7 linked regions of the Homo sapiens genome follow. The protein of the gene in region 3 purifies or fractionates together with the protein of the main gene of each other region. This does not show direct contact. Each region holds a gene or a part of one and is shown on either strand. Other genes may lie near its edges.

Region 1 (3,500 bases), on a different chromosome or scaffold from region 3:
GTTTCTTTATTCATTTATTCACACAATCAATCATTCATTTACCATTTACTGAGTGCCTGCTATGTGCTAGTATATCTTAGGGGTATCTTGGTAACTAGATAGAAAAGATCCCCATCTCTCATGGAGCTGACATTCTGGGGGAAGCAGGGAGACAGACAAAAACCAAACCAACAAGAGACTATTGGGTAGTGATGAGTGCTATACTAAAAACAAAACGGGGAAGGGACTGAGTGATTGGGAGGCTCATTTAGACTGGGTGGTAAGAGAAGGCCTCTCAGAGGCGACACAGGCTGAGACCTAAACTCAGAAAGAACCAGCCATGCTAAGATATGGCAGAAAGGGTTTCAGACAAAGGAAACGGCCCTTAAAAGGCTACAAGGTGGGAATGAACCTGGCTGGGAAGAATGACTGGAAGGTTGTATGGAAGAGATAGGCAGGGGCCAGCTCATTCAGGGTATCAAGTTTACATTTTACTCTAAGTGGGAGGGGAAGCTGTTGGGGTTTTCAGCTCAAAAGGGACATAACTTGTTTACATTTTTTAAAGCTCAACTTGGCTTTGGTGTCTGTGGCAAATCAACGGCAAATGGGAGCAAGGCAGGAAGCAGGGGGATACATCAGAAGTTGAATGCACTGGCCTAGACAAGAGATGGTGGTGGCTTGGTGTAGGGTGCTGGAGAGAACAAATAGGTTCACAACAGCTTTTGAAGACAGAACGGACAGGAACTGTTGACAGATTGGCTGGCTATAGGGAGCTAGGGAAAGTGAGGGATCAAGGATGTTCCCTAGGTTTTTGGCATCAACAACTCAGTAGATGACACTGCCATTCTGTTAGGATGGGGAAGACCAGGGAGGAGAGGTTTGAGGGAAGAGGAGGAATCAAGAGTTCTTTTTGGTCATGTTAGACAGAAATGACAAAAGAGGTAACTGGATATGAGTCTGGAGTCCAGGGAAAAGGTTAAGGCTAGAGGCAGAAACCTGGGAGTCTGAGACGTATTGATGGTATTTAAGCCATAGGATGGATGACGTTGCCCAGGAAGACTGCAGACAGAGAGTAACAGAAGGCCTTGGCTTAGCTGTGGGTACTCTCACGGTTTAAGATCAACAGAAGGGAAGGCATCACCCAAGAAGGATGAGGGGCCACCAGCGAGATAGGAGAGAGAAGTGTGGAGCCAGAAGCCAGAGAAGTGTGTCATGCAGCACAGTGGGCTCTGGAAAATGCTTCAGGAAGGTCAAGCGAGGTGAAAGCAGGGAAGTCTCCACTGGGTTTGGTAAAGTGGATGTGATCTATGACCTTGAAAAGAACAGTAACAGTTTCAGCAGAGGAGTGGGAAAGGAAGCCTGACCAAATGCCTCTAGATCTGTCTGAATGGGTATAAAAGGAGAGACTTAAGAATATTACTTACGAGCAGTTGGCAATTCTACAAAGAAGTGGACGTAGAGATTGTCATACTCATAGCCTTGGGCTGAAACTACGAGAGAAAACAGGAAGCTATTTTAGCTTTTTCTCCTACCACCCTTAGCACCCAACCCAATCCTGAGGGGCCTACACACCCTGAGAGCAAGTCTTTTGAGGGCCAGGAACCCTCTGCGTTTCCAGGAAAGACTCACCACTGAGTTTCCCAAGTACAGCAGACAAGGCCTCTACCAGAGTGGAGGAGACTATTCACAGCTCCATCTAGGCACGTGCCTAAGCATCAAGAGATCTATGCTAGCAAGACACTTACCGACCTCTCCATTTACAAAGAGCCGGAGGGCACCTGGGACAGTCTAAGGTGAAGAGAAGTGGGAAAGGATCAGCAGGCCTGGAGGGAATTGGCACTTCTCCTCCAGCCCCATCTACAAATCTGCAGACGACCTGCCACTAGGGGTCAGGCCCTGGGTGTCACTACTGCACTTTCTCCCCACCCTGACACTTCTCCACAGATCTGTTTCCTTCATTCCTAAGATTCACAATGTAGGGGGAAAGTACATAATTTAAATGGCAGTGAGGACAATGCACTATGGGAAATTATTCAAGCAACAGCAACTGTCCTGTGGTGTGCAATGGGAAGCCAGAACGCCCTCTTCCCTTTAGATGGCTGAGGTCAAGAAACCAGGGAGTTTTCTTTTTTAATTATTTGTGCATGTCTTATCTAACTTTTAAATACTGAATATCTGTTGCTTATGCAATATGGAAATAGTGAAGGTTAATTTTTCAGAGAAAGAGAGGGAGACCAGGAAGTAATTCTATCCTTGTTTCCAGGTCTAGAGATAGAACTCTTAGAATGAGAAAAGACAAAGAACAGCACAACAGAATAGCTGAACTAAACCACTTTCTTTTTTTTTCAGACAGGGTCTTGATCTGTTGTCCAGGCTGGAATGCAGTGGTGTGATCATAGCTCAATGCAAACTCAAACTTCTAGGCTCAAGCAATCCTGCTGCCTCAGCATCATGAGTAGCTGGGACTACAGGTATGTATCACCATGCCTTGCTAATTTTTTTTTTTTTTTTTGTAGGGATGTGGTCTCACTATGTTGCCCAGGCTGCTCTCAAACTCCTGGCTTCAAGTGATCCTCCCACCTTGGCCTCACAAAGTGCTGGGATTATAGTCATGCGCCACCGCATCAGGCCTATATTTTTTAAGAGCCAAAATATGTGACAAACAGAAATGGCACCCCTGCCTCTCTATGGGGTATTTTGAAAAAATATCCACATGAAAGGTGAAGAAGACATTTTTCATCCTTATATTTATTTTTTAAATTAATTATAAAGTAATACCTAAATACATTACAACTGATAAAAATTCAAAGCTACCTAAGTTTAGGGAATAAAAAGCAAAAATCCCTAATATATCCCTCTCACCACCCACTACCCTTCTACCACATCTAATCCCACCCTCCCCAGAGAAAGCCACCCACAGCATGTGCATAGCCTTTCAGACCTTTTTCTTAGCATTAACAGTTCTCTATCAACATGCAATGTTGCAAAACACATAACAAGGACTATATGTGCTATTCTTTGACTTCCTTTTCACACTGTAGAGTATACCTTTGGGCCTTTAAGAGAGGTAGTGTAACTCATCCACAGTCAGAATGCTCCGGCTAAACACAGCTCACAGTGCTGCAGGAAGCCAAGCTACTCACCATCTCAAAGTCGGTGCCTACGAGGCTGCTGAGATACTCCTTGTGCCGGCCATAAAGCTGAGGAAACAAACCAAACCAAAACTCAAGATGCAACCCAAGCTAGACCAAAGTTCAGTTCTGAATGGGAAGAAGAAAAGCAATAGTGGGAAGGGTCAGCAAGAGCTGGAGGCGTAAGCACCTGACTCACCGCCATTTTACCGTGAAGCAGAGGCCCTGGAGTCAGCTGGTCTGGGGCAGAATCCTGACTCTCGCCCTTACAAGCTATGCCACCTTGGGCAGACTACTTAGCTCCTCAATCTCGGTTTCCCCACTTATAAGGTGGTAATAAGTGTTCACCTCAAAGGGTTGTTGTAAAGACTAAAGGAAATAAGGTATGTA
Region 2 (3,500 bases), on a different chromosome or scaffold from region 3:
CCAGCATATCCAACAGCCAAAGACTAATTAATTCCCTTTGGCATTGCTGTGCTGCCAATAAAACCTCAACGTTATGACTGGTCTGAATGGTATTGAGAGACATTGTGGTGGCACTGAGGTGGGGATCTGCGTCCACACCTGGGCCACTGGTATGAGGAGTTGTGTCCTTCAGGGCCAGGGCAGTAAAGTGCAGGATGGCCAGTGAGCTCCCCAAGGGGAAGGGCAGTCTCAGAAACAGATGCCCCTGCTGGAGATTCTTCCTCCAGAGCCAGCCCTGGAGGACAGAGGTTATCCCAGGAAAGGAGCCTGGGAATTGGCTTACAGAAAGGAGTGGCCTGGTGGCCTTGTGTAGGACATACTGGTTTGAGGAAGGTCCTCCCAATCCCACTCTGGCCAGTTCATTAGGAACTACCCATCTGGCTGCTGCTCCTCCAGGGATGTTCTAAGCAGGCTTTTCTCACACCCTGGGGTGATGACCTCACTCACCCTGGCTGGAGGCGAGGCTTCAGGACAGCACAGAGTTCAGACACCAAGGCCTCCAGGCCTGGAGGAGACAAACTGCTCCAGAGAGTGGATTCCTCTGAAGGGAGCCATGGAACAGGGCTCAGGGTAGAACCCACCTGTGAAAGGTAATAAAAAGCTTTCGTTTCTAAAAATCGTTTCTACCCCCTGCGCTGGTCTACACCCATCCTTGGGGCCTCACCATGTACAAGGAGGTATGGGTGGTGTCGGCCAAGTAGGCACTGGCTGGTCCATCTGGAGCTTCCCCAACTGTTTTCTTCACTTTAAAAAACATTTCCCGCCACCTGCAGGAAAAAGGCCCAATGAACCCCAGATCCAGAGTCCAAAAACCCCCCTCCTCAAGGACAAGGTTTCTCAATCACAGAGGACAAACAAAAGCACCACAAGAGCGTGTCCCGAGTCATGGTGGGGAAAAGGAATGCAGATGGACTTTCTCATCTTCCTGACAGACCATACACACCTTGAGGGCAAGAGCTATGCCTGTCCCTCTGCATCCCCCATGACAGCCATGAGAGCTCTGAGGGGGTGTGTTTCTCCAGGCATGTGGCCTACCCACCCACACCAATGGGAGAAGCTGCTGCTGCACTAAGCAGTGGATCATCTGATTACTTCTACTGGCTTCGGTCTCCCCCTCAAATACACAGCCATCCAGGCCCCAAAAACCCTAGGGGGAAGGGTCCCTTGGCTCTTACTCAATAATCCACAAAATCTCATTGCAGGCGGAGTCCTTAATAATGCCATCTGATGAATAATGGTTCTGTATTCTGGCTGCACATTGGAATTATCTGTGTAACTTTAAAAACTAAACATTTCTCACATATTATATGATTCTATTCAGCAGATCAGCAGTTGCCATTGCCTATGAGGGAAGCTACAGGGAATGACTGCTAATGGGTGCAGAGTTTCTTTTTGAGATGTTGAAAATGTTCTGGAATGAAACAGTGATGTTGGCTGTACAACCTTATGAATAAAAAAATTGAATTGTATACTTTAAAAGTATGGTTTTATGGTGTGTGAATTTTATGTTTTTAAAATTAACCTTTCTCCTTCCTTTGTGAAGGAAAAAAAGCACAGGCTCCAGTCTCACCCTGATTCTGCCCCAATAGATCTGGGGTGGGGCTTAGGCACCTGTATTTTTTGAAAGCTTCCCCAGCAATTCTGATGCATAACCAGGGCTGCGCAGTAGTTGGCGAGTGTCATAGTGAGTTAGGGTTATTCAACCTACTAACGGGGAATAGGATGGGTAGCAGGAACAGCTACTAACCCAATTTTCCAGATAAAGAAATCATGAACTACTTCCCTCTTTAATCCTCAGGCAGCAAGGCAATGACAGAGTCAGGCTATAACCTAGTCCTCTTTAAGGTCCAATCAGGCTGCAAATTCCTCTGCTCACACTGCCCCACAGTCTCAAAGCTGCTCTCTCTAGCAGCAAAGGGGTGTGAGAGTGCAGCAAGGTGGAGGGGAAGCATACCAGGTTAGTATTATGAAACTCTTCTAAGTACTACAGTAAACCTGGAACATCAGGAAGCCTGAATCTGCCTATAATTAATTATAAATAGGTGACAGTGGGCCTCTAACCTAGGATCTCGATCAAGCTCAACAGCTGAGTCATGGTGTGTATGACTCACCATGGAAGCCCTGCATAGGAATGAGATGGGGGACAGCACTGTGGCATAGGGAGAGACCACCTTCTTCAGTGGAGGGTGGTTGGACCACCTCAGTGAATAGAAAGGCCAGAGCTCTGGAACCTATGTGGACACTGCTAAGGAACACTGAGCTGTGCTCCAGCCAGCCAGATAGGTGATAGTGGAGCTGGCTCCCATGCAGCCTGGTTTGGGGAAGTGGAGCACCAGGGACAGGATGAAGAGGCTACACCAACAGTGGAATTCCTTTCCAGGGCTCACAGGAACTTCTGCAGGGCTTCCCTTCTCAAGCCCAGTGCAGCTTAAAACGCTCATCTGTATCTGTCCTTGGACCCATTGGGCCACTTACTCCAACCCTGCTTTCCTTGCGGGGAAAAGAACTATGTGCTCGGCACTCAGGAGGAAAGCAGGGTTCTACAGAGTTGAGACAATAGAAGTTCAGGAACAGAACTGGCTTGCCAGCCTGTCTCATGAGGTTCTAGTGCCTATTTTCCTTTGAAAGTACAAAGAGTGGGCATTCTGTAGTTTTCCTACTGAAAGCTAGCTCAAAGACGTTTGCTAAATTTATGATAGGAGAGAGAGGTGGGAAGTGACTGCTAAGTGCCAGCCTGGCATTTTCCACCAGACTCGTGGACTTAATCTGGAAAACCTCGAAGAGGTGACATGGAGCCTAAATGGGGTTCCACAGAGCACCACCACCCTGAGACTGGGGGTACTGAGCACTGGCCAGAACCAAGCACTGGATATTGACCAGGGATGAACATCAGGCACTCCAAACAAGGACTGTCTCTCCTGGCAGAGGACCCAGGCTGGCTATGCCACAGACCTTGGACATGAAGGCTCTTATGTATGAGTTAGTGCATCTATCAGCTGTGCTCTCCTTCTAGTAAACTGCTGCAGGAAATGAGTCCAGAATACAGGGAATGCTGGGATACAGAGCTATACATTTTCCTCCCTACACATAAGGCTAAAGCAGTGTCTCAATTCTTTGCCTCACCATTTTACATGGAACCTCTGTGGTCAGAGTCAACAAGAGGAGAAAAGCTGGATTCCTTATTTTGGGTTCTTGGCTCGGTTATGCTCTATTTCTCATTCTCTGTTGATAGGACAGGGTAGCCCTCTCAAAAACAATAGAAATCCCTGGCTGGGTGCGGTGGCTCACGCCTGTAATCCCAGCACTTTGGGAGGCCGAGGCGGGCGGATCACAAGGTCAGGAGATCGAGACCATCCTGGTTAACACGGTGAAACCCAATCTCTACTAAAAATACAAAAAATTAGCCGGGCGTGGTGGTGGGCACCTGTAGTCCCAGCTACTTGGGAGGCTGAGGCAGGAGA
Region 3 (3,500 bases):
CGCCTGAAGCCTAGCTCACCTGGCAGGACACTGCACCATTGCGTTCAAAGAGACAGTGAGCATGGATGTGGCAGGGGCTGTGGGCTGGGCTGTGGCAGGTCCGGGCTGGGAGGCAGCCCTGGCTCTGGTTGCCCAGGAAACCCAGGCGGCAGGGACCACACTTGAAAGAGCCCTAAGAGTGGAGAGGCAGCATCTTAGGAAGGAGGGTGAGCCCACCAGGCACCCAGGACCAGCACTGCTCCACCTGCGGAGTGTGGGCTGGGCACTCAGTTATGCCAGGCATATCAGTATCTCCTTTAGGTTATCATGACAACCTTTCAGGGTGGATAACAGCCTCAGTTTTCAGATGAGGAAGCTGAGGCTCAGAAAAGTTAAATAACCTGCTAAAGAGCTAGCAAGAGGCAAACCAGTATTCCAAACCAAGTCCATGTGAACACCTAATCTGTGTAGTGCCCTGGGGAGGAGGAAAGGCAGCAGGAAATTTGAAGGTAAGAAGGGGCGGGGGTTGGGGTTTTACCATTCCCACCACCCCAGAATACACTCAGGATATTCAGCTCACCACAGTGTTGGTGCAGATGGAGTTTGGGTCACAGCCACCATTGTTGCCATCGTTGCATTCATCGATGTCATTGCAGACCTGAAGGGGCAGACTTTGGGTGGAACCAGACCTATGGTGGGTCTCCTCAGATACAGCAGAGGACACTGGTATGGCCTTATCTGTGAACATCAACATTAAGCCCAGACCCAAAGCCGATGCAAAGCCATCCATGTCCCATTCATCACAAGGGTCCCATGTCCAACCCAGAAGCCCCTGGCCTCTACAAGGCCAAGATCCCTTGTCCACACACACTACCCAGTCTGACCTGTTTGCTGGCCCGGGCATAGTCAATGCCCACACCAGACACCTGTGTGCCCTTGTACCCTCGAGGACAGGCCTCACAGTGGAAGCCGGGCATGGTGTTGATGCAGCTGGAGCCCGGGAAACAGGGGTCAGCGTGAGCACACTGGGGACCAGATGAGAAGGCAGAGGTCAGGCCGCCCTCTGGGAAACTCAGGTCCCTGCCTGTGATCCAGGAACCATTGCTCCAGGTCTCCCCTTTGTGCAGCTCTCCCCACACAACTGCCTTGTGCTCCTGGTCCCCACCCCACTTCCCTCGGGGTTCCCTCTCTCCCTCCCCATGCCACTGGTCACCATCTCAAGCCTCCCCTGCAGTTTCCCCAGCTCCTTCCCTGTATGGCCTTCAGTCTTTGCCCCAGGCCTTCTGTCTCTCCCATCTTGCATTTCTCTTGCCTCTGACCTCTCCTAAACTCCAGATTCCTCTCCTCCGGACCAGCATTTATCCCACCCTCTTGGGTGCCTCCTGACATCCTCACCCCAGTTTTCTGTACCCTTCTGGGCTCTGACCTCCCTCACCTCATTGATGTCACTGCAGTGGGTGCCGTTGCCCTGCAGGCCAGGGGGGCAGGGCCCACAGCGGTAGCCTGGGTACTCGTACACTTCCATGCAGTCCACACCTCGGAAGCAGGGATTGGGGCTGCAGTGGGAACGCTGCTCATGGAAGCCTGAGGGGTGGACACAGTCAGAGCTACCCGGTGGTCACTATTTAAGCCACCAGAAGGGAAAGCCAAAGCCATTGGGTGGGGAACGTGGCACGGTCATGTGGAGCCTCCCCTGCTCTCCCACTCACCGCACACCTGACACTCCATAATGGTGTTTCGGATCAGGGACATTTCCTTCACCTGGAGAAGGATGGGGAGGAGTCAGCACTTGACATCTGCCACCCTACCCCAGAATCAGTGCCACCCTTCGCCAGCCCACCCAAACCTGGTCTCGTATATCATCCCGCAGCTCCACCAGGATCTGGTTGAAGAGGGTGAGTTGGGTGACCAGCGCCTTGGTCTGCTCCCCTGTCGGGACCCAGGGTGTGAGGGGTTCAGTACTGGAGCACCAGTCCTGGGCCCTCCATGGGCAATAAGCCAGTACCTGCCACGGCTGCCCACCCCTGCCTTTAAACCTACTACATTCCTGACTGAAGAGGACTTAGTTTCAGGCAGCTGCCAGAGCCTGGGGCCTCCTCCCCGCTCCCCGCTTCCGCTTCAGTGTGGCCTACTCACCTAGAATGGAGTGCAGTGCATTGGTCACTGGAGAGGAGAAGAAAACATAGTCAGAGGGGTGAGGTGAAGTGAAGAGAGGCCTGGTTGGTGAGAAGGAGGAAGGAAGGTGAGGACAGGGACAGGGCTGGAGCCCCAGAATAAAGATGGGGTGCTGGATGCTGGGAGGGCAGAGCTGGCAGACAAGCAGTGCCAGCTCCTTCTATGGGGCAAAAGGCCCTCTAAGGGAGTTGCTTCACAGGAAGTTAGAACCCAAATCCTCCTGGTTCCTAGGCATGGTAGTGGCAGAAGGGATGGACCCAAAGCAGGGCCAGGGCCCCAGTATATCCCCATTTTTTTTTTTTTTGAGTCGGAGTCTTGCTCTGTTTCCCAGGCTGGAATGCAGTGGCGTGATCTCTGCTCACCACAACCTCCACCTCCTGGGTTCAAGCAACTCTCCTGCCTCCGCCTCCCAAGTAGCTGGGACTACAGGTGCCCACCACCATGCCCAGCTAATTTTTTGTATTTTTTAGTAGAGAGGAGGTTTCACAGTGTTGGCCAGGCTGGTCTTGAACTCCGGACCTTGAGGGATCAGCCCACCTCAGCCTCCCAAAGTGCTGGGATTACAGGTGTGAGCCACCACACCCGCCATCCCATTCCCTTCTTCAAGAGCTCTCCCTCAAATATCTGGGAAAGGTGGGTCTTTTATTTAGGTGAGAGCTTCTGAACATCCCTGTCAGAGAGACCAGGCAGATGGGCAACACTCAGAGAAATTGCTGGTGACAGCTGCCAGTGAGAACTATAAAAGACTCGAGACCAGGCCGGGCGCGGTGGCTTACGCCTGTAATCCCAGCACTTTGAGAGGCCGAGGTGGGTGCATCACTTGAGATTAGGTGTTTGAGACCAGCCTGGCCAACGTGGTGAAATCCCATCTCTACTAAAAATGCAAAAATTAGCTAGGCATGGTGGAGGGCGCCTGTAATCCCAGCTGCTTGGGAGGCTGAGGCAGGAGAATCACTTGAACTCAGTGGAGACTGCAGTGACCCAGATTGCACCACTGCACTCCGGCCTGGGCAACAGGACAAGACTCCATCACCAAAAAAAAAAAAAATACTCGAGACCAGTATCTCTTGGTCAGCCAAGGCCAAGCAATTAACCAATTCTTCTCTTAGATCACTTTTTTTCTCGGATGGGTGTATTGGAGATTGTGGAGTCAGGTGAAAGATTTGGAATAACAGGGTTAGAAACCCTAGGAACAGGTGAGCCAAAGGAATGGGTTTTAAGGGAGAGGGAGATCAAGAAGACAGGAGTCACCAAAGGCCACAGGATCCGTGGTCCAATGTCAGCAAACAAGTCTCTGTGTTACCTGCACTGTGGATGGACTCGTCCCCTTGGAATGGACACTCACT
Region 4 (3,500 bases), on a different chromosome or scaffold from region 3:
GAGTGAAATTGAATGGTATGTCTAAATATCTAAAATATAGGTGTTCAGGCCAGGTGCAGTGGTTCATACCAGTAATCCCACCACTTTGGTAGGCTAAAGCAGGAGGAACACTTGAGGTCAAGAGTTTGAGAGCAGCCTGGACAACATAGTGAGACCCTGTCTCTACAAAAAAAGGGAGAAATTTTAAATAGAATTTTTAAAAAAGAAAAAAATATAGGTGTTTAAAAGCAAGGGTATAAGTTGAGGGCACAGCTAAAGCTTTTACTTGAGATTTGGAAAGTGATTTTAGGTATTTTTTAAGGGCTTTATTAAAAAAGTTAGATCTTTCAGATCAAGCCCCGTGACTTTCTTTGTCTTCAGCTCAGAGCTGATCTTACATATGTCACCTACAATTTGGGTTCTTTAGCCAGGCGTGATGATGTGTGCCTATAGTCCCAGCTACTCGGGAAGCTGAGGTAAGAGGACCGCCTGAGCCCAGGAGTTTTGGGCTGTAGTGGGCTGTGCTAACCAGGTATCTGCACGAAGTTTGGCAGCAACATGGTGACCTTCTAGGAGTGGGGAACCACCAGCTTGCTAAGGAGGGGTGAACCGACCCAAGTAGGAAAGGGAGCAGGTCAAAACTCCCATGCCAATGAGTAATGGGATTGTGCCTATGAATATTCACTGCACTGCAGCCTGGCAACGTAATAAGACCTCGTCTCTAAATAATAATGATAATAATTTGTGTTCTTAACCAACAGAGAAAGGGTGTTTATAGTACTGTTATTCATGGTGCAACAGCATTTCCTGGCACACAAATCAAACCTCTCCTGTTTGCCTTTGGAGTGCTGTGGCCTTTGGCGAGAAGCCAGGTCTGCCCACAGCCCCAGGCTCTGTCCTTTCTGCCTGTGCAAGGTGGGAGCCGGATATTAGAGAAGACTTGGCCAGGGGCTCTGAGCAGAGAGCTGTGCTGGGAACCCTCAGGACCCCTATCCACTCCAGCTTCCTAAGATGTGTTAGCTGCATACCTCTGGGTGAGAAAACGGGCAGAGGAAGAGTGACTTTCCGAAGGGTGATGCAAACCACCAGCTCTTACAGAGGGGAGATGCCGGATCACGGCCTCTGGGTGTGAGAATTGAGGAGATGTGGTGTAGAGTTGAGAAGTAAGAATATCCCTGACAGTTTTTCATCCCCACCTCTTGATTCTGAGAAGAATACCCACTCAAAAATATCTGATGAGAAGATGTGGAGAGGCCGAGTGCGGTGACTTACACCTGTAATCCCAGCACTTTGGGAGGCTGAGACGGGCAGATCACTTGAGGTCAGGAGTTTGAGACCAGCCTGGCCAACGTGGTGAAATCCCTTCTCTACTAAAAATACAAAAATTAGCCAGGCATGGCAGCGCATGCCTGTAGTCCCAGCTACTCGGGAGGCTCAGACAGGAGAATTGCTTGAACCTGGGAGGCGGAGGTTGCAGTGAGCTGAGATTGCTCCATTGCACTCTAGCCTGGGCAACAGAGCAAGACTCTGTCTCAAAAAAAAAAAAAAAGAAGAAAAGACAAGCTGTGGTGACACCTTGTATAGCTTCTTCAGTATGTGATGTTCCTGTGCCTTCTGATTAGTGCTCAGCGTGGTTCTCTGTGTTAGTTCCATGACCTTCTACTTTTATGTGTTTCCAGTAATTTGAATAGATAACCAGGATTATTATTAATTGGTATGTGGTATTTGGAAATGCTGTATCTGTTCCTGAAACTTACATGTTGATGACGTACTCACCTCAGAATTTCTCTAGAAAATGCATAGGGCTTATTGAGAGGGTTGCTCAGTGGTGTCACCTTCTTTGTCCACTTGCAGCTGAAACATTAACAAACGTGCTGGATTTCAAAAGGGATGCTGGTCTGTGGCATGGCGTGTTAACAGTGAGTGTTGTTTGCTGATGACTAACTGTTGGAACAAGGGATTGAGATGAACCCAAGCCTCTGCCTGAAATGTTGTTGGGAGAGTACATCGGTTTTGTTTTGCTTTTTCTGGTGTGGCTCGGGCCCACTCGCCCTAAGCATGTGTGCTCCCCCACAGAGCGTCATGAACAGGATGCACGTGGTCAGCGTCCCCTACGCGCTGATGAAGGCGAACCCACTCTCCTGGATCCAGAAAGTGTGCTTCTATAAAGGTAACGGATACCATGGTCAGGGCCTTCACCCTTCTTTAGGGAAATCTCTTTGAACTGACCTTTGGTGCTTAAGAAAAAATAAAGCTGACATGTGGAACTGCAGATGTAGGCTGAAGAGCTGTGGGACGTCTTTCTTGGTCACACCCCTGCCCAGGAATATGGGGGCTTTCTCTGCCTCTGGCATGGCCCTCAGGGTTTCGTGGGTGATGTGGTAAGTAGGGCCACTTGGTGGGGTCTGGGCCTTACTTCTCTCAACGGTTGAGGTGCCTCCTGGGACCAAGCAGGAGGCCCCAGCATGGCCACACCTGCACAGTTGGCAGTCTGTGTCTCTGCCCTGTGGAGCTCAGTGGCACTTCTACCAGCCACTGAGGCACTGGATCACCTGGGTCACCCATGTTGCCTTGTTCTACCTACTGGGCTGTGCCCCTCTAGACATGTCTCAGAGCAGTGTGGAGGGGCAGCTCTCTCTGTCTGTCCTACTTTATGGAGGGAAACTGAAGCTTGGGTAGGGGTGGGGGGATTGCTGGATTCCACATGCTAGCCAGTGCAGGGGCCAGACTGAGGCCTGAGACCATCTGTTTAGCTTCTGGGGTCCTCACACTTCTCAGCCAGCACCAGGGGTTTGGGGAAGGACAACATGAGATGAAGCGGGCAGATAGGAAAAGAGCAATATGGAGCTTCTAAGAAAAAATTAATGTTGGAAATGGATCTGAGGTTTTGATGTCTAAATTGTACCTCAGAGTTGATTTTTGTGGAAAAAGCTTTGAGGGTTTGTTAGACTGCATGTGAGAGACGGCTGCAGAGAGCTTGTGACCTGGGAGCTAAGTGTTGTGTCTGTCTGTGCATGTACACCTCTCTGTGGGATGAGGTACACGTGTCTGTAGGCGTGTGAGGGTGCCAGTCCTTGTGACGCAGGGATGTCTGTGCCATCCTCTCTCTGCAGCTCGGGCCGCGCTGGTGAAGTCGCGAGACATGCACTGGTCTCTCCTAGCTCAGCGGGGCCAGAGGGACGTCAGCCTCAGCTCACTGCGCATGCTGATTGTGGCCGATGGTGCCAACCCGTGTGAGTGAGCCTGTGTGCCCGGCGCATACCCCACACAGTGTCCCCTCCTGCAAACCAAAGTAGAATACACTGAGAAGCAAAATGGAGGCATTTTCACTGCCATTGTCATATAGATACACATGTCCCATCGTTTCTATGACACGGAACATCTTGGTGATTCACTGGTTTATCCCATGCATGTTTATTAGGCCACTAAATTTAAAAGCAATTTTAATATGCTTGATGAAAGGTACATGCCTTAATGAGAGTCATCTTTCTTAAGAAATTACCAGATTGTGCTGTGGCCTG
Region 5 (3,500 bases), on a different chromosome or scaffold from region 3:
AACTGCCCTGGCCTCCCAAAGTTCTGGGACTATAGGTGTGAGCCACAGTGCCGAGCCCACTTCAAGCATCTTGATTACTGAAGATTTCCAGACTGACCTGGGGGGTCGCAGGTTCACCCCTCTTCACACAACCCTATGGGCTATTGAGGTGGACAGGGATATTTCCTACCACTTCCCAGGTTGTAAGTCTGTCATCTCCTTTGGTCCTCATATTTTCTGTCCCTGTGTGTCTGTTACTACCTCCAAATGCATCTGTGAGGAAAAGGAGGGGCAGAGAAGGCCTGGGCCTTGCCTGAGACCATGCAGATGGCATGGCAGAACACCTCGCCCGCCACACTCCACACACCACACACCTACATCAATATGGTTCACACCAGACTTAGGTGTCAAGCTCACTCTCTCCCTCCCATCTCCTCCCCCACAGTGCTCATACCACAAGGAGATCATTGAAGAGGAAGACCTCCCGCTGATGCAACCCTAGCCTCTGGGGGCGGTTTGGATCTGGCACCTCGTAGAGCTGGCAGCAGCAAACCAGTCGACGGTGAGGGAGAGACAGGACCTAGACAGGCATGAAGAAACAGGTGTCAGCAAGGCCAGCCCATCAGCTTCAGGCCTCCTGGCACCTTAACTTTCAACCGCAAGAAGTTTACCACTCATACATGTGTGTCACTCTGACACAAGGGGTATCAGCAACTAAGACCTAAACTTATCTGCTACCTTGCCTTTGCCCTTCTGTCTGGAATGTCTTTCTTGCCCAGCTCTGCATGGTCATATTTCAACTCCCTTTCAAATTTCCATCCCGGCCGGGCGCAGTGGCTCACGCCTGTAATCCCAGCACTTTGGGAGGCCGAGGCGAGCGGATCACTTGAGGTCAGGAGTTCGAGATCAGCCTGGCCAACATGGTGAAACCCCGTCTCTACTAAAAACACAAAAATTAGCTGGGTGTGGTGGTGGGCGCCTGCAATCCCAGGTACTCAGGAGGCTGAGGCAGGAGAATCGTTTGAACCCAGGAGGTAGAGGTTGCAATGAGCCGAGATCATGCCACTCCACTCCAGCCTGAGTGACAGAGTGAAACTCCATGTCAAAAAAAAAAAAAAAAAAAAAAAAAAATTCAATCCCAAAATGATCTCTTCCAAGAAGCCTTCCCTGATTTCTCCAGGCTGAAAATGGTCTCTCTCTCCTTTCTCCTCTCCTAAACTGGACCATAAAGCAGAAGTATTATATGTGTCTTTGTTTCACACCCCGACTGGTCTGTGAGTGCCCCCAAGGATAGAGAACACGTCTGATTCATATCTATGAATGCCCAGCACCAACTCTGGTGCCCAGCAAATGCTGGGCTCAGTGGAAAGGCATCCACAAATGTTTGTTGGCTAAAGCGTTTTCTTTTTTTTTTTCTTTTTTTGAGACGGAGTCTTGCTCTGTGGCCCCAGGCTGGAGTGCGTTGGCACGATCTCAGCTCACTGCAACCTCCGCCTCCCGGGTTCAAGCAATTCTCCTGCCTCAGCCTCCTGAGTAGCTGGAACTCCAGGCATGCACCATCACGCCCGCAGCTAATTTTTGTATTTTTAGTAGAGACAGGGTTTTGCCATGATAGCCAGGCTGGTCTGGAACTCCTGACCTGAGGTGATCCACCCACCTCGGCCTCCCAAAGTGCTGGGATTACAGGCACAAGCCATTGTACCTGGCCTAAAGTGTGTTCTTACTTTGGTTTTCTGCTAACCATTAGCTTGGCTCTTCACTTAGGATGGACAGGCAAAGCCGGAGGTGAAAAGGATGCTAATATTTATATAGTACCCACTATGGGCCTTGGAATGTGCTCGATGCATTCACTCTGCACCACAGCCTTCTGAGGAATGCATTATCACCCACTCTGTATTGCAGGTAAAGGGCACCTGGGGCTCAGGGAGGTGCAGTGACTTACCACTTAGTGGCAGAGGCAGACCTGAACCCTGGCCCCTCTGCAGCCTCCCAAGGCACTTACTGGTTTCTTTCCAACAATCATGCGCTCCACAGCCTGCACCTGGGACACATGGTCATCGTTGGTCCGCAGTTCACGCCCCTGGATGCGCTGGTAGATGCCCACCAGGAGGTCTCGGGGGATGTCTTCACCATTGTCAACCCCTGGGGGAGGGAGTAACACAGGGATATGTCACATAATTATGGGCACTGGGTGGTAGGGGTGCTCCACCACCCCCACACCCAGGCACGGGCCACGATAGTCAGGACTGAGGGTCAATGGGTACCCTCGGCCCCTTAGCCAGGATTGGGGCAGGGAGGGTGTCCTTCAGTACAACAGCCAGTTGCTATCTTCCCCAGAGTGGGGAATTTTTTCTCAACAACTCAGAATACACTGTAATTAAAACAATCAGATACTATTGTTTGCCTTCCTAATTAGCAAAAATAATTTAAAATGAAATCCAGTGCTAGGAAGAGTGCAGGGAAGTGGGCATGTATGGTAACATAACTCTTTTGGAAGGTAATTTGGCAAGAACCTAAATGTTTGTACCCAGTGATTCTCTTCTAGGAATCTACCCTAAGGAACTACTCAGAAATATGTGCAAGAGGTATGTGCAAGAATGCTAGTGCAGGCGGGGCATGGTGGCTCACGCCTGTACTCCCAGCACTTTGGGAGGCCGAGGCAGGTGGATCACGAGGTCAGGAGATCAAGACCATCCTGGCCAACATGGTGAAACCTCATCTGTACTAAAAATACAAAAAATTAGCCAGGCATGGCACCATGTGCCTGTAGTCCCAGGTACTCGGGAGGCTGAGGCAGAATTGCTTGAACCCGGGAGGCAGAGGCTGTAGTGAGCCAAGATCGCGCCACTGCACTCCAGCCTGAGCAACAAGATTGAGACTCTGTCTCAAAAAAAAAAAAAAGAAAAAGAAAAAAAAGAATGCTAGGGCAGGCGTGGTATAATCCCAGCACTTTGGGAGGCTGAGGCAGGTGGATCGCTCGAGCCCAGGAATTCGAGAGCCAACCTGGGCAACATGGCAAAATCCCATCTCTACAAAAAATACAAAAATTAGCTGGGTGTGGTGGCACACACCTGTGGCCCCAGCTACTTGGGAGGCTGAAGTGGGATAATAGCTTGAGCCTGGGAGGAGGAGGTTGCAGTGAACCATGATTGCACCACTGCACTCCAGCCTAGGCAACAGAGCAAGACCCTGTCTCAAAAAAAAAAAAAAAAAACTCACTAAGTGTTACTTATGGGGACAATTTGAAACAACCTAAATTTTAACAATAGAGGATAGTATATCCATTTAATAAGATAATGCACAGCTATTAAAAACTTGACATTTACAAAAACATTTCAATAGCATGAGAAAATTACAGTAGCAAATTATGGGAAAAGAGTAAGATAAATTGCATGTGTGGTATGATCTGAACTATATAAAAAGTTACATATGCATGGGGGAAAAGATTAGAACGCACCAAAACATTAACTATGATTGCCTCTAGGGGGCACATTTTGGGTGATAAAAAGAAATTTTCTAAT
Region 6 (3,500 bases), on a different chromosome or scaffold from region 3:
TCTGTGGTCCTGGGAAGGTGTGCTGGACCACCACAGGGTTTGACACGAAGTCACTCAATGTCCCCAACTCAGCTCTTTCGTGGCTACTCAGCACACACCAAGCTAATCTGGCTGTGTGCACAGCTGCCTGGCTCCAAAGTGGCCTCATTTTCTAGGTAACAGAACAGGTCAAAGTCACCTGCTTCTGACTCGAGTCATTCCTGGTGCGAGTGATCAAAACCGCTCTCTCCCCAGGGGAACTGGGCACAGGTCCCCAAGGTCCTGGGAAACACAGGTGTTCTCTGGCCCCTGGGAAGGAGAGCGCCTGGACTCCATCCAGGGGCAGCCAAGGTCCCATTTCCATGGATCCCAGATGAAAGGAGAGGTCGGCACTTCCAACACCAAGAATGAAGGCATCTCTCCCTCACTCACTTACACAACTTTTACTGAGCCCAGCCCTGGTTTAGTTTGTTACAAACCACCCACACCATCAACAAGGCATAACTGATGCATATTTTTAAAGGACAAATTTTGGGTGCCAACCAATTCTTAGCAATAGAAAAATTTCACAGCAGGAGGCTCTAGCTCTATGAACTTGATCCTTGCAGCTTCCTCTTTTTATGGGCACACAGGTACACCAGGAAACACTCGATGGACTGCTGCACTACCCTGGTTTCAACTGGAATTTTGTTACAGTGAGTACACCATGATTTCAGTCAGGGTGACTGAACTTTATAAAGGGACAGATAGTACTTTTGCCTTTGTGGGACACACGAAGCCTGAAAGCCACAGACGATGCAGATGGGAATGGGTGTGGCTGAGTTCCAACAAAACGCCATTGACAGGAATAGCGGGCCTGGCGGCCAGAGTCTGGGAACTTGCTTCAAGAGATATTCTTGTCCAGCCATGGTGGCTCACCCCTATAATACCAGCATTTTGGTAGGCTGAGGTGGGAGGATAGCTTGAGCTCAATGAGTTCCACACCGGCCTGGGCAACACAATCAAACCTTGTCTCTACTACAGACAAAAAAAAAAAAAAATTAGCTGGGTGTGGTGGCACCTGCTTGTAGTCCCAGCTACTTGGGAGGCTGAGGTGGGAGGACTGCTTGAGCCCAGGAGTTCGAGGCTGCAGTGAGCTGTGATCACACCACTGCACTCCCGCCTAGGAGACAGAGCGAGACCTTTTCTCAAAAAAGGGGCGGGGGAAAATACTCTTATAAAGTACAAAGAAATACAATTTAGGCTTTTTTGCTGCATGTTTATTCCATCCTGCTTCCTTCCCAACATGCCCCAAAACTCGAGGGGAAGCCTTCTGCACATGGCATCTGGACAATGGGCCCATCCTCCTTCCCTCTCCCACATTAACAGCCACAGGCTCTGGCTTTGGGGCTGCCTGGGAGGAATCCCTCAGGACCCCATCCAATGCACACTGTCCATCAACTCCTCCTCTTCTGGAGGTTAAAGTGGGTCTTCTCCCAATCCACAGAGAGTCCCTTCACACCACACCAGTCTTTCCCGCCCCAATGCGCCCCATGCACTTGCTAGCTTCCTTATTTCTGTTAGTTTTCAAGTCTCTTTGGGTTTATTCCGGCCCCCACTCCACTCCCAAAACAACCACCCTCCCTTGCTTTGCATCCCACAGCAACTCCTTCCCTTTCTCATAGAAACTTCTCTACAGAGCCCGACACGCCTATTTCCCTACCTCCCGCAACTTGACCAAAACGCCCCTGCTACAGCCATCACCGACGGCTCCAGGTCACCACACCCCACGGCTTCGTTCTTATGGTGGATCCAGGACCAGTTGTGACAGCTCACTCTGGCCCCTTAGGAAGTTCTCCCTGGGCCTGAGGCCACCGTGGGCTGCTTCTGCTCCCATGGCTGATGGCCACTGCCCACGGCTATCTCCAGCTGACTCCCCTTCCTTCCCCACCATAACAGAGACCATGTGCCGAGTGCTGACAGTATCCCGAGAATTGGGAATAGTCTCTTGCATCAAAAGGGCGCTGCTGAATGACTTTTCTGATTCTTAAAAAGCTGGGTTCCCTTTCAAAGGCCTCTACCACTGCCAGACGCTGCCCCTCCTCTTTGCCTGACGGGAGCCCACCGACCACGCAGTGTTTCTGGCCAGTCTACAGAGGATGCACAGCGAGGGTTTCATGTCCCCTGCTTCGCCTCTGACGCATCAGGGGGCTGAAAGAAAACCCTACCCTTGAATCATGCCACTGCCACCATTTTTTGTACATGGGACCCCTGAAGGAGCACAAGGCTTAAATGTGAATGTGCACATTTCTCCTTTCATAAATACTCATGACTCCCCCTACGGCTTATTGAATATGTATATTTGGCCACCAATATCCATAAATTCTTGTTGCCTTTGCCCCTCCCTTGAAGTGTCTGTTTTTGGCTTCTGGCAGGAGGCTCTGCTTCCCAACCTGTCAGAATAGCCACCCACAGGCTGCAACCCTTTATGAGGAATGAGGCTCTCCTTTCCAAATGAACAAACCTTGTCATTCTTCAGCTGACACCATCACGGACAGAGGCTCTGGTGGGAGAGAAGTGGCCAGGACAGAGGGGTGCTCTGAGTGCAGCCACAGCCATGCTGCTGGGAAGGGGCAGGCAGAGGTACGGGGATGCCTCACACACGGACTCTATCAAAAACAGGCACAAAAAGAATGGAAAGAGGAAATGGAACCACAGAACAGAAGCATGGTATGGCCACGTGAGAATGCCTCCCGCTTGGATTCTTAGCCCAGCCCAAGGCCTGCATTCATTCATTCATTCATTCATCATTCATTCATTCATCCATCATTCATTCATTCAATCACTTATCCATCTAGTACCTCAGTGATTCTTATGTGCCGGGGCCCTTCCTCTCATGGGACCTATGTTCAGTTAGAGTAATAATGAGAAACAAGTGCACAAGAACATAAACAAACTTGTTTCTTTTCTTCTCTTCCTTTATTTTCAAGACAGGGTTTCACTCTGTTGTCCAGGCTGGAGTGCAGTGCTGCGATCATAGCTCAGTGTAGCCTCGACCTCCTGGGCTCAAGTGATCCTCCCACCTCAGCCTCCCAAGTAGCTGGGACTACAGGTGCACACCAACACACCTGGCTGATTTAAAAAAAAAAAATTGGAGAGATGAAGCCTCACTATGTTGCTCAGGCTGGTCTTGAATTCCCGGGCTCAAGCGATTCTCCTGTCTCAGCCTCCCAAAGTGCTGGTATTACAGGTGTGAACCTCCATGCCTGGCCAAAACAAACCGCTTCTGATTCAAGAAACACCATGGAGACAGAGGATGATGGAGTGCGCGGGGCTGCAGAGAAGGACGTCCTGGAGAGACGGCATTTGAGCTGGCAGCTGAGGGAGATGAGGAGGTCTGGGAAAGGGAGCTCCAGGAAGAGGAACAGCATAGCATCTGCAGGAGCTGGAGGCCGGGCGAGCTGGGTGTGTTCAGGGCAGGGGTGCACAGAGCACAGTGGCCCCCAGGGTTGGGATGGGTAGGGCCAGATCTTACACGACTT
Region 7 (3,500 bases), on a different chromosome or scaffold from region 3:
TCATGCGCTCTGTATCAGGGAAATCAAAGAATTTAAAACCTCGTTACTGCCCATGAAGAGCTCCCTGATAATTTTACTAAGGAAAGAAAGAGGCTAGGAGTTTTACAATCACAGGGAATCAAGACAAGAATTGTGACAGTGAAGAATTAAATATTAATAACCCACTAGCCACAATGGGAAGGTCAACAAATGAACTAAGTATAGAGAGAAAAAAATTATTCAAGTTCTAAGAGAGTATTAAAGCACAAACCTGAATGTTAACAACTAATTTTTTTCCCCCAAGATTTTAACTTCCAGTTAAGTAGTTTAAGGTGTTTCTTTAAAAAGTCTGGAATGGTAGACTCTAGAGATCATAAACCACCAAGTCTGATATCAATACCCTTAACAAGGCCAGACGCGGTGGCTCACACCTGTAATCCCAGCACTTTGGGAGACGGAGGTGGGCGGATCACCTGAGGCCAGGAGTTTGAGACCAGCCTGCCCAAATTAGCCAGGCGTGGTGTCGTGTGTCTGCAGTCCCGGTTACTTGGGAGGCTGAGGTAGGAGAATCACTTCAACCCAGGAGGTTGCAGTGATCCGAGATTGCACCATTGCACTCCAGCCTGAGTGACAGAGGGAGACTGTCTCAAAAAAAAAAAAAAAATCTTAAAATTCCAAAGAAATTAAATAGAACAGAAAATGTAAATGATGTATAGAAATCAGCAGAAGCTTTTAGCCTCATTTTCTTCCAAAAGGCTATGAAACTGATGGATCAAGGAAATACTCCAAACCCACTATCTTACTATCTTTTTTCTTTTTTTTTTTAAAGAGACAAGGTCTCCCTCTGTCACCCAGGCTGGAGTGCAGTGGCACAACCCCAGCTCACTGCAATCTCCGCCTCCCAGGTTCAAGCGATTCTCATGCCTCAACCTCCCCAGTAGCCGGTATTACAGGCGTGCGCCACCACGCCCAGCTAATTTTTGTATGTTTAGTAGAGATGGGGTTTCACTACGTTGGTCAGGCTGGTCTTGAACTGCTGACCTCAAGCAGTCCTCCCTCCTTGGACTCCCAAAGTGCTGAAATTACAGGCATGACGCCACCACGCCAAGCCTGAAAATACAGCTTTTAACTATGTGCCTTCGCCTCCATTCCCAATGACAATTCTTTAACATCAATCTCTTATTTCAGGCCTGTATCACAATAATCTGACTCCTAAACTAGTCTCATTCACCCTAGTTTTGTTTTTCTCAAGCTATCCTCCACATAACTGCCAAAGTGTTCTTTATAAAATGGTCTTTTTTTTTTAAGTCTTATTCTTTGGCTTACCTGCTTAAATCCTTTAATGGTTTCCCCACTGCCTTTAGGATCACATCTCAACTCCATAGCATGGGTATAAAGTGCTTGCACCATGTCCCATCTCCCCTCTTTCATGTCACTTATACCATTTCTTTCTGTTGTACTTTTCACATATGGTACTCTACACACACAATACTATCACATGCTATGAACTATCTATGTCTTCTTCCTTCTGGTTGGAATGTCTACCTTCTCATTTTCTGTCTGGCAAACTCCCATTCACCCTCCAAATCTTGCTCAGGTCTGTGAAGACTTCTGACTCTCCATGGCAGAATCTCTTCCACCTCTGTATTACCTTACTTTAACAACTATGAAGGAATGTAATTCATAGTGTTATATTTATTTAACAATATGGAAGAATACTTTCTTCCATATTGAGGGCAGAGGCTATTCTTTTCAATTAGATCTCAGTCTACCAACTGTCCTTCCTCCAAGTGGTCCTTATTTCCTTCTCTTATGCTACAGGCTCTGCCTAGACCACCTTACCACCTTTTCAGTTGTGAATGCCACCTACACACTCGTCTCTGATTTTTACTGAGTCTAAACTGATGTCCAACTGCGTATTGTAAAAGTAAAGTCAAACAGCATAGAATTTTCTTTTTTATTTTCCAGACAGAGTCTCACTCTATTGCCCAGGCTGGAGTGCAGTGGTGTGATCTCGGCTCACCGCAATCTCCACCTCCAGGGTTCAAGCAATTCTCCTGCCTCAGCCTCCCGAGTGGCTGGGATTACAGGACCTGCCACTGCGCCAGGCTAATTTTTATATTTTTAGTAGAGAAGGAGTTTCACCATGTTGGTCCGGCTGCTCTTGAACTCCTGACCTCAGGTGATCCTCCTGCCTCGGCCTCCCAAAGTGCCGGGATTACAAGCGTGAGCCATGGCGCCCGGCCCAAACAGTGTAGAATTTTCTCAGGTAGAAGCATAAGTCCTCTCCCAGTCCTCTTACCCTAACAGCCAACCATTAAGTTGTGGTACTTACCTTTTCAGACATTTTCAAGGTATATGTAAACATATACACTTGTATCCATAGATACACATCTTTTACACAACTGAAATTTACTGAAATCTTACTATATATTCTGTAACATGCTGTAAGATATTTAATATATTGGGGACATTTTCCCGTATCAGAAGATACACATTTACTTTATTTCTTTTAAAAAGTATATACTCTTAAATATGTATTTATCATAGTTTAGCCAAATCTCTATTGATAAATATTTAGGTGGTTTACCATTTTTTCACTATTACAAACAATGCTGCAATGTCATCTGTATGCAATGTCTTTGCACATTTATGCAAATATATCCCTGCAGGTGGACTGCTGGCAAAGAGCAGGGATTACATTTGAGAATGAGATAGAAAAGTTTGATTAAAAAAAATGGAGCAATGTGCTTGAGAAGATGAAAAAGGTAGAATCTAAAGCCGTAAACAACAGTAGGTTAAGAATGATGTAGACACGATGACAAAGTTGTGAAGGCGGGAACAGAAAGTTGAGGTAATTTATTGCCTCACCAAAGGTTTATCAAATCTATAACAAATTAAAAGGAAGAACTAATAAGTGCTAATATTTTATGACAGATTGAAATGTGCAATGGTCTTGATAATACAATATGGTAAGCACAAACTAACATTAAGAAATGACTGAATAGGCCAGGTGCAGTGGCTCATGCCTGTAATCCCAGCACTTTGGGAGGTCAGGGAGGGTGGATCACTTGAGGTCAGAAGTTCCAAACCAGCCTGGCCAACATAGTGAAATCCCATCTCTACTAAAAATACAAAAAATTAACCAAGTGTGGTAACGCGTGCCTGTAATCCCAGGTACTCAAGAGGCTGAGGCAGGAGAATCGCTAGAAGGCAGAGGTTGCACTGAGCCGAGATAGCGCCACTGAACTCCAGCCTGGGTGACTGAGAGACTCCTTCTCAAAAGAAAAAAAAAAAAAAAAAGACAGAATACTATCCTGTATTTAGAATTAAAAACAAAATAAAGATGCATGCACGTAATGGGGGAAAAATTAACCTAGCAGTTTTATAAAAGAGGCCTGAAAGTCTGATGCATCATAGGAATGTCTTAACTTCTGGATTGAGGATAGGAAGAGAATGAATTCATATAAAGAACTTCAGGCCTTATTGAGACAAACGTTTTTAAAAATCCAAATTTAAGG

The links.
Region 1: the proteins of THBS3 (region 3) and MKS1 purify together in Homo sapiens (affinity purification with mass spectrometry; 3 studies listed by BioGRID and IntAct, with this or other methods). This does not show direct contact.
Region 2: the proteins of THBS3 (region 3) and PEX6 purify together in Homo sapiens (affinity purification with mass spectrometry; 3 studies listed by BioGRID and IntAct, with this or other methods). This does not show direct contact.
Region 4: the proteins of THBS3 (region 3) and DIP2A purify together in Homo sapiens (affinity purification with mass spectrometry; 3 studies listed by BioGRID and IntAct, with this or other methods). This does not show direct contact.
Region 5: the proteins of THBS3 (region 3) and IQSEC2 purify together in Homo sapiens (affinity purification with mass spectrometry; 3 studies listed by BioGRID and IntAct, with this or other methods). This does not show direct contact.
Region 6: the proteins of THBS3 (region 3) and SH3BP4 purify together in Homo sapiens (affinity purification with mass spectrometry; 3 studies listed by BioGRID and IntAct, with this or other methods). This does not show direct contact.
Region 7: the proteins of THBS3 (region 3) and MTPAP purify together in Homo sapiens (affinity purification with mass spectrometry; 3 studies listed by BioGRID and IntAct, with this or other methods). This does not show direct contact.

Annotation. Positions count from the first base shown.
Region 1 is NC_000017.11:58,209,256-58,212,755, forward strand, and holds part of MKS1 (tectonic-like complex member MKS1), read right to left. Parts: intron 3,180-3,500; coding exon 3,123-3,179; intron 1,768-3,122; coding exon 1,725-1,767; intron 1,470-1,724; coding exon 1,404-1,469; intron 1-1,403. UniProt on the Homo sapiens protein: Component of the tectonic-like complex, a complex localized at the transition zone of primary cilia and acting as a barrier that prevents diffusion of transmembrane proteins between the cilia and plasma membranes.
Region 2 is NC_000006.12:42,969,182-42,972,681, forward strand, and holds part of PEX6 (peroxisome biogenesis factor 6), read right to left. Parts: intron 807-3,500; coding exon 704-806; intron 621-703; coding exon 487-620; intron 1-486. UniProt on the Homo sapiens protein: Component of the PEX1-PEX6 AAA ATPase complex, a protein dislocase complex that mediates the ATP-dependent extraction of the PEX5 receptor from peroxisomal membranes, an essential step for PEX5 recycling.
Region 3 is NC_000001.11:155,201,398-155,204,897, forward strand, and holds part of THBS3 (thrombospondin-3 isoform 1 precursor), read right to left. Parts: coding exon 3,458-3,500; intron 2,143-3,457; coding exon 2,116-2,142; intron 1,909-2,115; coding exon 1,826-1,908; exon of another isoform or gene 1,741-1,825; coding exon 1,689-1,740; intron 1,564-1,688; coding exon 1,415-1,563; intron 1,005-1,414; coding exon 864-1,004; intron 718-863; coding exon of another isoform or gene 638-717; coding exon 560-637; intron 173-559; coding exon 20-172; intron 1-19. UniProt on the Homo sapiens protein: Adhesive glycoprotein that mediates cell-to-cell and cell-to-matrix interactions. Can bind to fibrinogen, fibronectin, laminin and type V collagen.
Region 4 is NC_000021.9:46,535,391-46,538,890, forward strand, and holds part of DIP2A (disco-interacting protein 2 homolog A), read left to right. Parts: intron 1-1,833; coding exon 1,834-1,898; intron 1,899-2,055; coding exon 2,056-2,149; intron 2,150-3,092; coding exon 3,093-3,212; intron 3,213-3,500. UniProt on the Homo sapiens protein: Catalyzes the de novo synthesis of acetyl-CoA in vitro. Promotes acetylation of CTTN, possibly by providing the acetyl donor, ensuring correct dendritic spine morphology and synaptic transmission.
Region 5 is NC_000023.11:53,241,351-53,244,850, forward strand, and holds part of IQSEC2 (IQ motif and SEC7 domain-containing protein 2), read right to left. Parts: intron 2,122-3,500; coding exon 1,982-2,121; intron 560-1,981; coding exon 434-559; intron 1-433. UniProt on the Homo sapiens protein: Is a guanine nucleotide exchange factor for the ARF GTP-binding proteins.
Region 6 is NC_000002.12:235,046,017-235,049,516, reverse strand, and holds part of SH3BP4 (SH3 domain-binding protein 4), read right to left. Parts: intron 1-3,500. UniProt on the Homo sapiens protein: May function in transferrin receptor internalization at the plasma membrane through a cargo-specific control of clathrin-mediated endocytosis.
Region 7 is NC_000010.11:30,342,779-30,346,278, forward strand, and holds part of MTPAP (poly(A) RNA polymerase, mitochondrial precursor), read right to left. Parts: intron 1-3,500. UniProt on the Homo sapiens protein: Polymerase that creates the 3' poly(A) tail of mitochondrial transcripts. Can use all four nucleotides, but has higher activity with ATP and UTP (in vitro). Plays a role in replication-dependent histone mRNA degradation.